Linked DNA regions of Homo sapiens: region 1 is linked to region 2. The links come from fine-mapping of genetic effects on gene expression. A gene starts in region 2. The other region holds a variant in brackets. All regions are shown on one strand. Distances are from middle to middle.

Region 1 (8,347 bases), 31 kb after region 2:
CAGTAATAGCATGGCTGGGTTAAATGGTATTTCTAGTTCTAGATCCTTGAGCAGTCGCCACACTGTCTTCCACAATGGTTGAACTAGTTTACAGTCCCACCAACAGTGTAAAAGTGTTCTATTTCTCCACATCCTCTCTTTTAATTGTGATGTTAGGATGTCGATTTTAGATCTTTCCTGCTTTCTGTTGTGGGCATTTAGTGCTATAAATTTCCCTCTACACACTGCTTTAAATGTGTCCCAGGGATTCTGGTACGTTGTGTGTTTGTTCTCATGGTTTCAAAGAACATCTTTACTTCTGCCTCCATTTCTTTATTTACCCAGTAGTCATTCAGGAGCAGGCTGTTAAGTTTCCATATAGTTGTGCGGTTTTGAGTGAGTTTCTTAATCTTGAGTTCTAATTTGATTGTACTGTGGTCTGAGAGACTGTTTGTTATGATTTCCATTCTTTTGCATTTGCTGAGGAGTGTTTTACTTCCAATTATGTGGTCAGTTTTAGAATAAGTGTGATGTGGTGCTAAGAAAAATGTATATTCTGTCGATTTGGGGTGGAGAGTTCTATAGATGTCTATTAGGTCTGCTTGGTCCAGAGCTGAGTTCAATTCCTGGATATCTTTGTTAATTTTCTGTTTCATTGATCTGTCTGTTATCGACAGTGGGATGTTAAAGGCTCCCACTATTATTGTGTGGGAGTCTAAGTCTCTTTGTAGGTCTCTAAGAACTTGCTTTATGAATCTGATCTGAGTGCTGCTGTATTGGGTGCGTATTTATTTAGGATGGTTAGCTCTTACTGTTGCACTGATCCCTTCACCATTATGTAATACCCTTCTTTGTCTCTTTTGATCTTTGCTGGCTTAAAGTCTGTTTTATCAGAGACTAGGACTGCAACTCATGCTTTTTTTTCTTTTTTCTTTTTTTTTTTTTTTTTTTTTGCTTTCCATTTACTTGGTAAATATTCCTCCATCCCTTTATTTTGAGCCAGTGTGTGTCTCTTTACATGAGATGGGTCTCCTGAATACAGCACATTGATGGGTCTTGACACTTTATTCAATTTGCCAGTCTGTGTCTTTTAATTGGGGCTTTTAGCCCATTTACTTTTAAAGTTAATATTGTTATGTGTGAATTTGATCCTGTCATTATGATGCTAGCTGGTCATTTTGCTCATTAGTTGACGCAGTTTCTTCATAGCGTTGATGGTCTTTACAATTCGGTATGTTTTTGCAGCGTCTGGTACCAGTTGTACCTTTCCATGTTTAGCGCTTCCTTCAGGAGCTCTTGTAAGGCAGGCCTGGTGGTGACAAAATCTCTCAGCATTTGCTTGTCTGTAAAGGATTTTATTTTTCCTTTGCTTATGAAGCTTAGTTTGGCTGGATATGAAATTCTGGATTGAAAATTCATTTCTTTAAGAATGTTGAATATTGGCCCCCAGTCTCTTGTAGCTTGTAGGGTTTCTGCAGAGAGATCCGCTGTTAGTCTGATGGGCTTCCATTTGTGGGTAACCCAACCTTTCTTTCTGGCTGCCCTTAACTTTTTTTCCTTCATTTCAACCTTGGTGAATCTGACAATTATGTGTCTTGGGGTTGCTCTTCTCGAGGAGTATCTTTGTGGTGTTCTCTGTATTTCCTGAATTTGAATGTTGGCCTGCCTTGCTGTGTTGGGGAAGTTCTTCCGGATAATGTCCTGAAGAGTGTTTTCCAACTTGGTTCCATTCTCCCCATCACTTTCAGGTACACCAATCAAACATAGATTTGGTCTTTTCACATAGTCCCATATTTCTTGGAGGCTTTGTTTGTTTCTTTTCACTTTTTTCTCTAAACTTGTCTTCTCGCTTTATTTCATTGAGGTGATCTTCAGTCTCTGATATCCTTTCTTCCACTTGATCGATTCAGCTATTGATACCTGTGTATGCTTCACGACATTCTCATGCAGTGTTTTTCAGCTTCATCAGGTCATTTGTATTCTTCTCTAAACTGGTTATTTTAGTTAGCAATACCTCTAACCTTTTTTCAAGGTTCTTAGCTTCCTTCCATTGGGTTAGAACATGCTCCTTTAGCTCAGAGGAGTTTGTTATTACCCACCTTCTGAAGCCTACTTCTGTCACTTCGTCAAACTCATTCTCCATCCGGTTTTGTTCCCTTGCTGGTGATGAGTTGTGATTCTTTGAAGAACGGGCATTCTGGTTTTTGGAATTTTCAGCCTTTTTGCACTGGTTTCTCCCCATCTTTGTGGATTTATCTACCTTTGGTCTTTGATGTTGGTGACCTTCAGATGGGGTCTCTTAGGGTACATCCTTTTTGTTGATGCTGATACTATTCTTTTCTGTTTGTTAGTTTTGCTTTTAACAGTCAGGCCCCTCAGCTGTAGGTCTGCTGGAGTTTGCTGGAGGTCCACTCCAGACCCTGTTTGCCTGGGTATCACCAGCGGAGGCTGCAGAACAGCAAAGATTGCTGCTTGTTCCTTCCTCTGGAAGCTTCGTCTCAGAGGGTCATCCGCCAGATGCCAGGCAGAGCTCTCCTCTGTGAGGTGTCTGTCGGCCCCTACTGGGAGGTGTCTCCCAGACAGGATACACAGGGGTCAGGGACCCACTTGAGGAGGCAGTGTGTCCCTTAGCAGAGCTCGAACACTGTGCTGAGAGAACCACTGCTGTCTTCAGAACTGTCAGGCAAGGACGTTTAAGTCTGCTGAAGCTGCGCCCACAGCCACCCCTTTCCCCAGGTGCTCTGTCCATGGAAGATGGGGGTTTTATCTCTAAGTCCCTGACTGGGGCTGCTGGCTTTTTTCAGAGATGCTCTGCCCAGAGAAGAGGAGTCTAGAGAGGCAGTCTGGCCGCAGTGGCCTTGCTGAGCTTCGGTGGGCTCTGCCCAGGTCGAACTTCCCGGTGGCTTTGTTTACACTGTGAGGCATAAACCGGCTACTGAAGCCTCAGCAGTGGCGGACACCCCTCCGCCTACCAAGCTGAAGCATCTCAGGTTGGGCTCAGACTGCTGTGCTGGCAGTGAGAATTTCAAGTCAGTGGATCTTAGCTTGCTGGGCTCCGTGGGGGTGGGACCCACCAAGCCAGACTACTTGGCTCCCTGTCTTCAGCCCCTTTTCCAGGGTGGTGAATGGTTCTGTTTCTCTGGCGTTCCAGGTGCCACTGGGGTATGAAAAAATAAAAATTAAAAAAAAAGCCTGCAGCTAGTTTGATGTCTGCCCAAACAGCCACCCAGTTTTGTGCATGAAACCCACAGCCCTGGTGGGGTAGGCACTGGAGGGAATCTCCTGGTCTGCCGGTTGCGAAGACCGTGGGAAAAACACAGTATCTGGGCTGGAGTGCACTGTTCCTCCTGGCACGGTTTCTCGTGGCATCCCTTAGATAAGGGAGAGAATTCCCCAACCCCTTGTGCTTCCCAGGTGAGGCAACACCCAACCTTGCTTCAGCTCACCCTCTGTGGGCTGCACCCACTGTCCAACCAGGCCCAATGAGATGAACTGGGTACCTCAGTTGGAAATGCAGAAATCACCGGCCTTCTACGTCCATCTCGCTGGGAGCTGTAGACTGGAGCTGTTCCTATTCGGCCATCTTGGCAGCCTCCTTACACTGAGGGGGATTATTTTTAATACAAGATAAATAGTTGTTTGTAGGGTGATGGAAAAAATCTAGTACAAGTGATGTCAATACCAAAGTGGAAGGACAGTGTTCTGGGAACAGGATCTTAGACTAAGCCAAAAGGCTTGGGATCTCATCCACAAAATAAACAGTTTGCCTGAAGTGGTGGGAGTGTGGGTGCCTCATCCATAGGAATAGGAGACAAGTTAGAGCATATCGGCACAGATGTAGGTAGGTGTGTAGATGCTGTGGTAGGAGCTTCATAGTGCTGCTTTTCTGATTGCTTCTATTTTCTTAGCAAATTAGGAAGTAATTAGCTGAAAGAGAATGCAAGGGAGTAGAAAAAATAAAGTAGGAAATAATCATCTAGAAGGAAAAAGTCCATCAACTGAGAGAGAGATAACGGAGAGGGGAGAAGGTATGAAGTAATCATCTAGGTGAGAGGGAGAGTGAATGGACCTGAGAGACAGAGAGAGAGAGAGGCTCACTCAAGTTGTATAGTGATCAAGTTAATGTGTTTGTTTTTCCAGCCACTTTTTATCTGCATGGTTGCAGGCAGAGACTCAGTGACAAGGTGAACTTAACTATAAAGAGCTGTAGTTTAGCCAGAGGAGTTTAACAAAGCCCAAGAAGAACAAGGAAATTGAAGATGTATGCAAATATGTAATGGTAATAATTGGCCATGGAACTTAAACTGAATAAGGAGGGAAGTAGTGTTTGTTAAAGGTCTTGATTATTTGTATATGAAAAGCAAAACAATCTAGTAAATACATTGTGTACCACTGAAATATTTGTTTCAGACTTTGTAGAATTCCTTTGGGATCCTTTGTCAACCTCACAGACAACAAGTTTAATAACACATTGCAGAGTGATTCTTGAAGAACATTCC[A/G]CTTGTGAAAATGAAGTTAGTAAAAGCAGACAGGTAATAATTTCTAGAGTTGCGAACTCCATGATCTATCTCTAAATCATTATAATTTTCTTACAGATCTTGGTTTATAAAAGATGCAGAAGTGATTATCAGAAAACTGTTTGGGGGAAAACATATTTACTTTTGATTTATAGAAACTAGACTTTTTCTCAGACTGCACTGAGATGAAAAAAAAATTTTTTAAACTGGACTTGGCTATTTTTTATCTTTATAATAATAAGATGAAAGAATATACCTTGATACTTCTCAACACTGTGATAGGAGTGGTAATCATTTTAAATTATAGACATACATGTAAGGACCCAGATTATGACTTTCATTCCTATTAGCTTACTTTTCTCTGTTCAGTGATCTGATTTGTGTTCTCATGGCCCAGGCAGCCATCTTTCAGGATTATGAATATACACTGGCCCTGCAGAGATGAACCGGTATAAATTCATTAGTGCAAATTCATTTCTTCTAAAGGAAGACAACAATACTCATTACCTTTGTTCTTTTGGCAAAAATCCAGTGGCATTGTGGCTTTGCTTGAACAATGGTTTCAAAATTAGACTGACACTTATTGTATTAACTAGTTATTTGTAGTCTACCAAATAATAGTAGTCTCTTTAAGGATTCAAAGTTCAGTAAAACAGATCTTAATCTTACAATGATCTAGAATTGAATTCAGTGAACATAAGACATATTGGGGAACTTTTTAGAGTGATGTTGCTGAGAATCTTCTCACTCTTTCATTGTAGCATTTTTTTTTATTGTTTGTTGATGAGATTGTAGATTCATGCAGTTTTATGAGTAAACCAATTTTAGGTTGAGCTTTAGGAAATTAAGGAGAAATTGACAGACTGGAGAATGCCCGGAGTAGAATGACAGAGGTGGTTGAAAAGCAAGGAGGCATATCATATTCATATTATGAGCACCATTAAGTTTTAGCCCTTGGAACTGTGATTACAAAGGAGGATAGCTGTAAGAAATGAAAGGGAGAAAAGGGATACCAGCCTAATTCTGCCTTCAAGAAGCATGTAATCTCAGAGAAAATAAGATGCACATAAACTGTAACTTAAAACTGGAAGTGAAAAGGAGAAGTAGGGAAGATAACAAACACTTATTTAATTCCAATTGTGTACTAGGCACTCTGTAAGGTCTTGTACCTGTCATCTTAATCCCAGCAGCCCTATTTAAAAAATGGGTGATCGCCAGGTATGGCAGATCACGCCTGTATATCTGAGTGCTTTGGGAGGCTGAGGCAGGAGGATCTCTTCAGGCCAAGAGTTCAAGACCAGCCTGGGCATCATAGCAAGATCCATCTCTACCAAAAAAATAAAAATTAGCTGGGCTCCCCCTTGAGCCCAGGAGTTGAAGCTGCATTGAGCCTTGATTGTGCCACCACACTGCAGCCTGGGCAACAGCAAAACCCTGTCTCTTAAAAGGATGACAGCCTCATTTTATAGATGAAGAAAATGAATCTTTAAAACTAGTTGTCACAGTGCTACTATGAATGAGCACTAGGATTTGAACTTGGATAGTCTGCCTCTAAAGCCCAAGTTTGCCTCACTGACCATGTTGCCTCCCCTTGAGCAGCATAGATAAAGTACTGTGTCTTCAGGAGAGAGACAGGAGAGAGAGGTTACCTTCAGCAGTGGGGATAAGGAAATAATTTATCTTAGGGGTGGCATTTGAACTGTGGCTTGAGGGAAAGAATAGGATTTCAACATGTGGCAACAGAGAGAGAGGCATTTTCTGCTTACCTCCAATAGGATAAAAACTCAAGTAAAATAGATGGAAACTGTTGCAGGAATTAGAGATATTTAATTTGAAAGATGTACAGAGAGATGCTGTTTGTATTCAAAGAAGGTATAGATTTATTCTGTGCTGTTATGCAGCATAGAACCAAGATTAGTAGTTAAAAGCTACAAAGAAGCAGATATATAATCCTGCATTTGCTTTCCATATAGTATTGTTTAGTTATAACCTAAATGTAAATCATTATGCTTTACCATTTGTTAAATACTTTCACATTGTCTCATTTGATCCTCATAACCCTGTGAAATGTATTTATTTTAATTGCATTTTTACAGATGAAGCTGGGGCCCAGAAGGGTTAAGTCATTTTTGAAATACTTGAATACTAAGTGGTAGACCTGGCTCTTTGTGATCACTGAAGCCCTTCAGCAGTATTATGGATTCACTCATGAAGTCTTTTTTTTTTTTTTGAGGCGGAGTCTTGCTCTGTCACCCAGGCTGGAGTGCAGTGGTGTGATCTTGGCTCACTGCAACCTCCGCCTCCCAGGTTCAAGCAATTCTCCTGCCTCAGCCTCCCGAGTAGCTGGGACTACAGGCACCTGCCACCATGCCTGGCTAATTTTGTGTGCTTTTAGTAGAGACGGGGTTTCACTGTATTAGCCAGGATGGTATTGATCTCCTGACCTTGTGATCCGCCCACCTCGGCCTCCCAAAGTGCTGGGATTACAGGCAAACTCAAGCAGTTTTTATAATGGATGTTTTTATTCTGAAACCGCTCTGCTGTGAATGTAGAAAATGGGTTGTTTTCATAAGCAGGAGAATAGATTACATCAGGGTTTTCAGTCTCAGCACTACATTGGCATTTGGAACAGATAATTTTTTGTTGTGAGGGTTTGTCCTGTGCACTATAGTATGCTTAGCAGCATCCCTGGCTTGTGCCCACTAGGTGGCAGTAGCACTCCCCGGTCTTCACAACCAAAAATGTCTACACATTGTCAGGTATTCCCTAGGGATGGCAAAATGGCACTTGGTAGAGAATCACTTACACTATATAATGCCCCATGTTGCTAAGACAGTTCACCAGTGGGATCACTCCATTTCTTCAGTGATGAAAGAGAATGAGGTTCAAGAATGAAAATTGAGTCAGACAACATAGTTTCTGTTTTCAAAGTTAGAAGGAAATGCTGTAAGCTAATGCCTGGTAATAATAGTTTTGATTCTGACTAAAAATCTAAAGTAAATTATTATAGAGGAAGATTATGAATACTTAAATTTAAAAAGCAGTAATTACTATAATCTGTCATTGATAGGATTCCCAAATACAAATGATACTTAACATTGTTTATTGAAGCAAATTGTTATTATGATTGTTCTTAGGGATTAAATGGGGAAATATAAGCTTAAGTAAACCTAAAAAATAATGGCCAGTAGGGCATTGGCTACCTATGGGGAGTCTGTTAGTATTAGATATCTTCTCAGCTTTGCCCTGTTCAATATTTTTATTGAACTGGATAAGGAGTTAAAATACATACTAATGAAATGTGTCAGTGACAAAAAGCTAGGAATTCTGTAAGACTTGTGGATGGTAGAATTAGAATCCAAGAAGATTTCAAAAGATTGTAGAAAATTGACTGATTCAAGAAATTGTGAAAAAATAAATGCATGTCCCACCCATGCGTTTAAAAATTCAACTATATAAGTAAAAGATGAGAGAGACACAGTTTTGAAGCAGCATAAGTAAGACAGATTATAATCAATAAACCCAGCGTGAGTCAGCAGTGTCACTTGAGTAACAGAAAACAGGTACATGGGAGTTTCTCCTAGTATGTGTGTGCTATTTTGAGTAAGAATGGCATATTTGGTGATAATACCCACAGATTAGACCTTCCTGGGAATATTGCATTTAATTTTCGGTGTAAGCATATTAAGTGGAGAGTGTCTTAAGATAGTATGGGAAAGAGAAGATGTAAAAAAAAAAAAAGTATGATATTCATCTTAAAATCTAGAAAATTGTCATGTGGAAGTGGGGCTAGTTCTATTCTATATGATCCCAAGAAGTAAACCAAGACCAAGGAGTGGAAGCTGTGGGAG
Region 2 (8,347 bases):
ATGTATGTCCCAAATATTATATAGGACCTATTTATACTAAAAAGCTACTCCTGTTTTATCTGAATTTCAAGTTTTACCAGGTATTCTATATTTTTTCTAAATCTGGCAACTATCCCTCAGAGTCATCGCTCTGCTTTCCCTGGGGACAGAGGAGAAAACTCAGGATTCCTCCCCCTTTATTAAATAAGTTATCTTTATTTCATCCTCTCCCACCAAGGCAACACCCAGAGAAAATAATTTTTCTCACTTCTTTCCCTTAGAACAAATGTTTGATTTCTGTTTTAAATAGCAGAGTTTTTTCTATCTCCATCATATATCACCTATCTCTTAACATGTTTGCATTTAACAAGTTAGAGTGACTTGTTTTCCAGTTTTATTTTCGTGAGTGAACACAGATGTTTCAGAATTGCCTCATCCAACCATTTAGTTCATTGTGTTCATGTCAGTTGTGCACTAAACACTAAACTAGGTATAGGATATCAAAATGAGTAAAAGAAGGGCTCTGTCTGGGGAGGCAGTGTCTTTTAAAATGGGAAAGTAAACAATGAGTCCACATTAGCAGATGGCTCTGAACTCAGCCGAGAACAGTAAACTCTGCCTAGCGTTTTCACATTTTGGTTTAACATCGTTTGTGAGTTAGTGACTTTTGAAGGGAAAGAACAGCCTTCTAGAACACCAACATCACACTTAGATTGTCCTTAAATAAACTGCTGCCTTTTAAGCAACACTGGGAGTGAATTCTGTCCTGCTGACCCCCTTTCCAATTGCAACAAACACCTAAAATGACTTTGGAAGCTGGCAGAGAACCCTTTTTGAGGAGGTGCAGACAGATATCCCCTTATGGTGAACAACTTCTACACTTAAATAACCTTACTCACTTTGAATAGATTCTTATTAGTTTTCCTTTTGGGGGGCTATTTAGGTTTCTAAATTTTGAGGTACCTAACATTTACATGCTGTTACAATCTGATATGAAGTTCATCAATGATTAAGTTATTTAGACTATTTTTTAAGACTTCTTTTTTTTTTTTGGAGATGGAGTCTCACTCTGTCACCAGGCTGGAGTACAGTGGTGCGGTCTCGGCTCACTGCAACCTCCGCCTCCTGGGTTCAAGTGATTCTTCTGCTTCAGCCTCCCAAGTAGCTGGGATTACAGGCATGCACCACCACGCCCGGCTAATTTTTGTATTTTTAGTAGAGATGGGGTTTCACCATGTTGGTCATGCTGGTCTTGAACTCCTGACCTCGTGATCTGCCCACCTCGGCCTCCCAAAGTGCTGGGATTACTGGCGTGAGCCACTGCGCCCAGCCTTCTTAAGGGTGATTAATACTTAGTATCTGCTCTAGGACCTTGCTATTTAGAGTGATCCTCAGACAAGTATCCTCGCCTTCACCTGGGAGCTTGCTAGAAATGAAGACTCTTGGTTCCTACACATAGCAGCTCAATCAGTATCTATATGTCCACACTATTTCCATGTGCTTTGAAGAACATTAGATTTGATAAGCATTAGTCTAGGGCTTAGCATGGTGCCTGTGCTAGTAGGTGTATAATAAACACTGATTGAATTGTACGATATATTAATATGTTTCCTTAAGAGTGCATAACAGAACACTGAATTTCTCTCCAATTACAATCACGATCATCTTCCTCATTCTCCTCACTGTTTCAAAATGCTAGTCTTAGCTGGGCATTGGGGTATGCGCGTGTAGTCCCAGATCCTCAGGAGGCTAAGGTGGGAGGATCACTAAGCCCAGTAGGTCAAGGCTGAAGTGAGCTGTATTTGCACCATCGCACTGGGTGGCAGAGCGAGACTCTGTCCATAAAATTAACTAAACTAAAAATTATAGTCTCCTGTTTGGTTTAGCATTAACTACTTTATAGTGTAATTTGGAAAGATGTCCTCCTCTGCTAAGGGAGTACAGAGCAGTATCCATGGCAGAACTTGGGAATTCTGCATGGAAAGATGGCATCTGAAAAGCACTGGACCGAACGGAACCCACTTCTCCATCTCCAATCTTTAAAGTTTATTCTAACTACAAGGAGCACTTGGTCCATGATAGGAAGCTGTTCTTTCAGATGCCACAAGTATCTCTATTCTCCAGAAATATCTTTTTCACACCATTTGCCAATTTTCCAAAAGAAACACACAAAAAAACAAGTAGTTCTCTAATTTTACCTGGATTTAAAAAGAGAAGCCTCTCTTTATAATAAGACATTAATAACTTGTGAATAACTGATAATACTGTATCATATAATTTCCCAAATTTACATCAAGGAGTTTCAGTTTATTGAGAAAAGCCAAGAAAAAAAGACAAAGCCAAGAAAAAAAAATTCCGGGGCTAGGTCAATCAGAGAAACTTTGCCTCTTCTCGATTCCTTTGGTGACATATAGTCAGTGATACAATGGTAAATGTTTAATGACTGGATATCTGGGAGAAACACCTGGACTTCTAAGGTCTTCCAATTTATATGGTATAAGTAGTCCCTTTATGGCTGATTTCAAGGTGCCAATATTGTGTCCGGAATTGGTGGGTTCTTGGTCTCACTGATTTCAAGAATGAAGCTGCGGACCCTCGCGGTGAGCGTTACAGCTCTTAAGGTGGCGCGTCTGGGGTCTGCCCCTTCTGATGTTCAGATGTGTTTGGAGTTTCTTCCTTCTGGTGGGTTTGTGGTCTCGCTGGGCTCAGGAATGAAGCTGCAGATCTTCACGGTGAGTGTTACAGCTCATAAAAGCCACGTGGACCCAAAGAGTCAGCAGTAGCAAGATTTATTGCAAAGAGCGAAAGAACAAAGCTTCCACACTGTGGAAGGGGACCGGAGCGGGTTGCCACTGCTGGCTGGGGCAGCCTGCTTTTATTCTCTTATCTGGCCCCACCCACATCCTGCTGATTGGTAGAGCCCAGCGGCCTGTTTTGACAGGGCCGTGATTGGTGCGTTTACAATCCCTGAGCTAGATACAAAAGTTCTCCACATCCCCATCAGATTAGTTAGATACAGAGTTTCCACACACAGGTTCTCCAAGGCCTCACCAGAGCAGCTAGATAGAATGTCTATTGGTGCACTCACAAACCTTGAGCTAAACACAGGGTGCTGATTGGTGGGTTTACAAACCTTGAGCTAGATACAGAGTGCCGATTGGTGTTTTTACAATCCCTGAGCTAGACATAAAGGTTCTCCAAGGCCCCACCAGAGCAGCTAGATACAGAGTGTCGATTGGTGCACTCATAAACCTTGAGCTAAACACAGGGTGCTGATTGGTGTGTTTACAAACCTTGAGCCAGATACAGAGTGCTGATTGGTGTATTTACAATCCCTGAGCTAGACATAAAGACTCTCTATGTCCCCACCAGACTCAGGAGCCCAACTGGCTTCACCTAGTGGATCCCGCACCGGGGCTGCAGGTGGAGCTGCCTGCCAGTCCGGCGCCGTGCGCTCGTACTCCTCAGCCCTTGGGTGGTCGATGGGACTGGGCGCCGTGGAGCAGGGGGTGGTGCTCGTCGGGGATGCTCGGGCAGCACAGGAGCCCATGGAGTGGATGGGAGGCTCAGGCATGGCGGGCTGCAGGTCCCGAGCCCTGCACCGCGGGAAGGCAGCTAAGGCCCGGCGAGAAATCGAGCACAGCGCCGGTGGGCCGGCACTGCTAGGGGACCCAGTACACCCTCTGTAGCCGCTGGCCCGGGTGCCAAGTCCCTCACTGCCCGGGGCTGGCAGGGCCGGCCGGCTGCTCCGAGTGCAGGCCCGCCAAGCCCATGCCCACCCGGAACTCCAGCTGGCCCGCTGTCACCTCTCAATATGACGCCACTAAACATGGAGTTGATAACAGGTGTGCAGTAGCTCAACATTATATAGTATTTCTACCATACAGATACAGTAGTAGACAGAGCTTGATGAATATAGAACAAATTTGCGTCAGACAATAGCTTTTTGTTTTTAGATAGTTTCTTTAAGGGTGAAAACATTTAACCAGGCTCTCTTGAAGCCCTGCTGCCTGGGGGAAGTCATTTGATTTTTGCTAGTCTGTATGCATTGTTTATGTACAGACTTTATGGTTTTGTTCTCAAAGGCATCTCCTCCTACCCCGAGCCTCACACTGCTGGGGTTTCGTTTGTTTTAAATCTTGGTTGGAGGGGGCACTCTCTCCAGAAAGTAAAAGACAACGGATCTGGCTCCAGTCCAGGACGGAAAGCATAACGCTTGATTTCTGGATGGGGTTTGCACAAGGACAGCACGTGAGTTCTGCTCTCCGTGGGACTCAGACCGGATAGGCCGTGAAAATCTCTAAGGTGTCAGTCCACGCAACCTAACCTGGCAAAGGGAATGCTTTGCAAACTCAGGCCCCAGAACAGAACTCGGCCTACCAGATCCAGGGAGCCAAAGCACGCAGGCGCAGACAGAGTAGCGGTGAGCAGAAGGCAGGCGGGACGGGCGCGCGCACTCGGCGGCCAGGCGCGGCGGGAGCGCGCCCTAGGGGGCGGGCACTGAAGCTGCGGCTTGCGGTTCAGCGGGTTCTAGGGCGCCGGGCGCTCGGGCCTCGGCCATGGCTCACAGGCCGAAAAGGACTTTTCGGCAGCGCGCGGCTGATTCCAGCGACAGCGATGGCGCCGAGGAGTCGCCTGCTGAGCCTGGGGCGCCGAGGGAACTTCCGGTCCCGGGTTCTGCGGAGGAAGAGCCGCCCTCTGGAGGAGGCCGCGCGCAGGTGGCGGGACTGCCCCACCGGGTTCGGGGCCCTCGTGGCCGGGGCCGGGTCTGGGCGAGCTCCCGGCGTGCCACCAAAGCGGCTCCCCGCGCGGACGAAGGCTCAGGTGTCCAGGGAGACGCGGGGAAGCGGGGAGGTGACGGCACAGGGCGGGAAGGGGCCGCGGGGTCTCTGGATCCTTCTCTGGGGGTTCTATAACTTGCTGCCGACCACAAGCCATGCTGAGTCTTATCCAGAAAGACTTATCCAGAAGGTAGTGAGCGAGAAAATAGCTCGAGCACTTGCCCGCTATCTGCATCTGCCTTTTGGACTCCTTGGGGGAAATAAAACAATCGTGTACAGTTGGGAGGCTCTTCGTTTTCACCATCAGTTGACTCCATCAGTTATAACTAACACAGTTATCAAAGTTTATGAAGAACCTAAACTGTCACAACAAAGTTCAATAATTTATAATACTATTAAGTGGGCAGAAGTTATATGTACCTTTTAGACACTTGACCAACTTATCTTTCTTGAAAACATTTAGCCAGAGTAGTACAGGAATCTAGGTTTTGGGACATTCCCCTTTGTTTATTTTCTTTTTTCACCAGTTATTTGCAAAAACTAATAGTAATATATACAACACAAAGAAGCATGATAGAGATTCATGACACTGTAGATGGTACCAGTAATGGTGTTAGATATAGTGTCGTCATTTTGAAGTACCTTTGAGTTCTTAAATACAGGTGTAAGGCAGCATAAAGTTGTTTAAATAAAATGTGCTGCTCTGAGTTGGAATTGTAGCTTAATGAGGAATACGGTTTTTGGTTAGTCTTGAGAGCTAAAATCTTCCTATTATTTTTTATTGTCATTAAAGTGATTTTTATTAATTTATTGAGAAGTAAAAAATGTATATACTTATAGTGTACAACATGATGTTTGAAATGTGTCTACAGTGACTAAATGGAGCTAATTAACATTTGCTTTACCTTAGGTACTTACTTTTTTTTGTGGTGAGAACACTTACTATCTACTCTTACTAATTTTCAAGTATGCAATGCATTGTTATTAATTTTAGTCACCGTGTTGTAGAATAGAATTCCTCTTGTCTAATTAAAATGTGTGCCCTTTGACCAGTATCTTCCCAACTACCCTCAACCTCACTCAGTCCCTTCTAACCACTACTCGACTCTCTGCTTCTGTGATTTCTGATTTCCACTTTTTTAGATTACATATGTGAGATCATGTGGTGTTTGTCTCTCTGTGCCTGTCTTATTTCATGTAACATAATGTCCTCCAGGTTTATGATCTTCGTGATTTCTTGGTCTTTCTTGTGACCTTCTATTTGTCTAAAGTTTTCATGACCTTTTATATTTGTTTTCTGGTTAAACTTTGTAGATGAAAGTTGAAGTCAGGAGTTCCTTTTCTCTTGCCTTCTAGAATAGTGGTTCTCAAACTCTTTGGGAATTGGACCTCTTTTAGACTCTTAGAAATGATTAAGGATTCCAAAGAGCTTTTGTTTCAGTAGGTTATACCTATCAATATTTATCACACTAAAAATAAAATTTATTAATTCACTTACAAAAAATCTATTACATGTAAGGATAAGTAAGATTTTTGTGAAAAGTATTACCCCAAAAAAGGAAGAGTAGCATTGTTTTCAATTTACAGATCTCTTTAATGTCTGGCAAAATATTAATAGAAGACAGATGAATTGTCATAGGTGTTTCTGCTTTTAATCTCTTGTGCTATTTTGTTTTGGTTGAAGTATTTGAAGAAAATACAGCCTCTGACAGATACATGATTAAGACGAGTACTTAATAGCATTTTTAGATCATTGAGGGTGTTGTGCTTTAATATAACACAGCTCAACAAGTAATAAACTAACCCTTCTTAAAAGTTAGTTGCGGGCCGGGCACAGTGGCTCACACCTGTAATCCCAGCACTTTAGGAGGCCGAGGCAGGTGTATCAAGAGATCAGGAGTTCGAGCCCAGCCTGGCCAACATGGTGAAACCCCATCTCTACTAAAAATACAAAAATTAGCCAGGCATGGTGGTGGGTGCCTGTAATCCCAGCTACTCAGGAGGCTGAGGCAGAGAATCACTTGAACCCGGGAGGCAGAGGTTGCAGTGAGCTGAGATTGTGCCACTACACTCTAGCCTGGGTGACAGAGTGAGACTTTATCTCAAAAAAAAAAAAAAAAAAAAAAAAAAAAGTTGCCAAATGGATTCTTAAACCATATGATTAAATTTGGGGTGCTCTTACCTTAAAACTCTGTTCTGTTTTGTACTTTGGATCTTTTACTCATGAACGATTGGTAACATCTTGCATTATTTGGAAGGTATTCATTAGCTGAGTTTGCAGATCTTGCAAATGTTGGAGCATTTTATTGTACAATACCAAAAAAATCATAGTATTACCACTGATTAATCAGTCTGTAAGTACTGGAAAGCTGTTAGGTTCACAGTAGAGAATATAAGTTTTCCAAAATCTCAATTTTCACTTGAAATCTCTCATTTTATTGATAGGCACAACCGGGCTCATGTTTTGAGAAAATGTTTGTCAGATAGCCATGTCTGAATAATCGGTTTGTTAGTCATTCTTTCAAGTAAAATGGTGATGCTTCTTAAAAACAACGTCTAGTTCAGCTTGCAACTCAGTCACACAAATGCTTTTCCTTAAGGCAGCCATTGCATTTCAAGATGCAGCAAAAGTGCCTTATGAATACTTTGATTTTGTCACAAAGAATATTAAACATGTGTACTCAAGGGTCAAAATTTAATAAAATAACAATTTTTTAATTAGTTCATGAAGAGCAACTGGCTTTTTTCTGCCATGTGAGGTAAGGAAAAATACCATAACTGCTACTACAAATTGATTCATTCATGCCAAGAGCCTAGCAGTTTTACCCATCACTGCCTTTACTTCATTATATAAATATCAACATGGTAAAAAGAACAAATAACATGTTATTATTGTGATGAAAGTAGTTTTAATTTCACAGACTCTCTGAAAGAGTCTCAAGGACCTCCAGGGATTGATAAACCATGCTTTAAGACCCACTGCTTTGGTGTTAATCCACTTTGGAAACAGGTATGGGTTGTCATAAATGACAATATCTAAGAAAGATGTGAGCTGCAGCTATATTTTTTTTAGTGTTTTAAATTTTGATTTTACTCCAGCCTTTTTTGAACTGTATGTAGGTCTTCTAACTAAGGTAGAAAATTAAAATTAATGAGTAGTATGTAATCTTATGTTTTAAGGTTACTCATAAAGATTGCAAATTTATTGTGGATTAAGAAATCCTTTCTTGTCAATAATGTCAAGAATTCCTTTATTTTGTTCATTCAATTTTCACAACACCCCTGTGGGTTTTATCTTGGTGTTATCTTTGTTTAACAGATTAATTGAATTTAACAGACTATTTACCTTCCCAAATCATGCATTGAAAAGATGGACCCATGGTTTAATATTGACCAAAGTGCTCGTTACAATATTTCTCGCCACCAGCCGTTGAAATATGGCATACTATAAAGAGAGCCTAAGTTCTGAAGTTGCCTGGGATTAGGTTGACAGCCCTGCTTCTCCACTGCCCGAGTTGGTGTTCTTTATCCTCTCAATCCTTAGTGAACTCATCAGAAATTGCATTTACTTTATAGAATTACAGGTA

What was found.
Region 1: its variant is fine-mapped to the expression of GCFC2 in nasal epithelium (TOPMed, PIP 0.93).

The regions. Positions count from the first base shown.
Region 1 is chr2:75,676,357-75,684,703 of GRCh38, reverse strand. GCFC2 (GC-rich sequence DNA-binding factor 2) reads left to right here. Exons shown (of 17, transcript NM_003203.5): 12 at 4,390-4,511. LOC124906025 (a long non-coding RNA gene) reads right to left here. Exons shown (of 2, transcript XR_007087113.1): 1 at 4,852-8,347. Among named protein-coding and RNA genes, the nearest start is that of GCFC2, 30 kb to the left of the region's middle. The variant A/G (reference allele first, on the strand shown) is at 4,479.
Region 2 is chr2:75,707,047-75,715,393 of GRCh38, reverse strand. It overlaps GCFC2 (GC-rich sequence DNA-binding factor 2), which reads left to right and starts at 4,479. Exons shown (of 17, transcript NM_003203.5): 1 at 4,479-4,803. The coding sequence starts at 4,539. It overlaps LOC105374813 (a long non-coding RNA gene), which reads right to left and starts at 4,455. Exons shown (of 3, transcript XR_940260.2): 1 at 4,360-4,455. RefSeq lists an enhancer at 3,098-3,669 and a silencer at 4,648-4,947.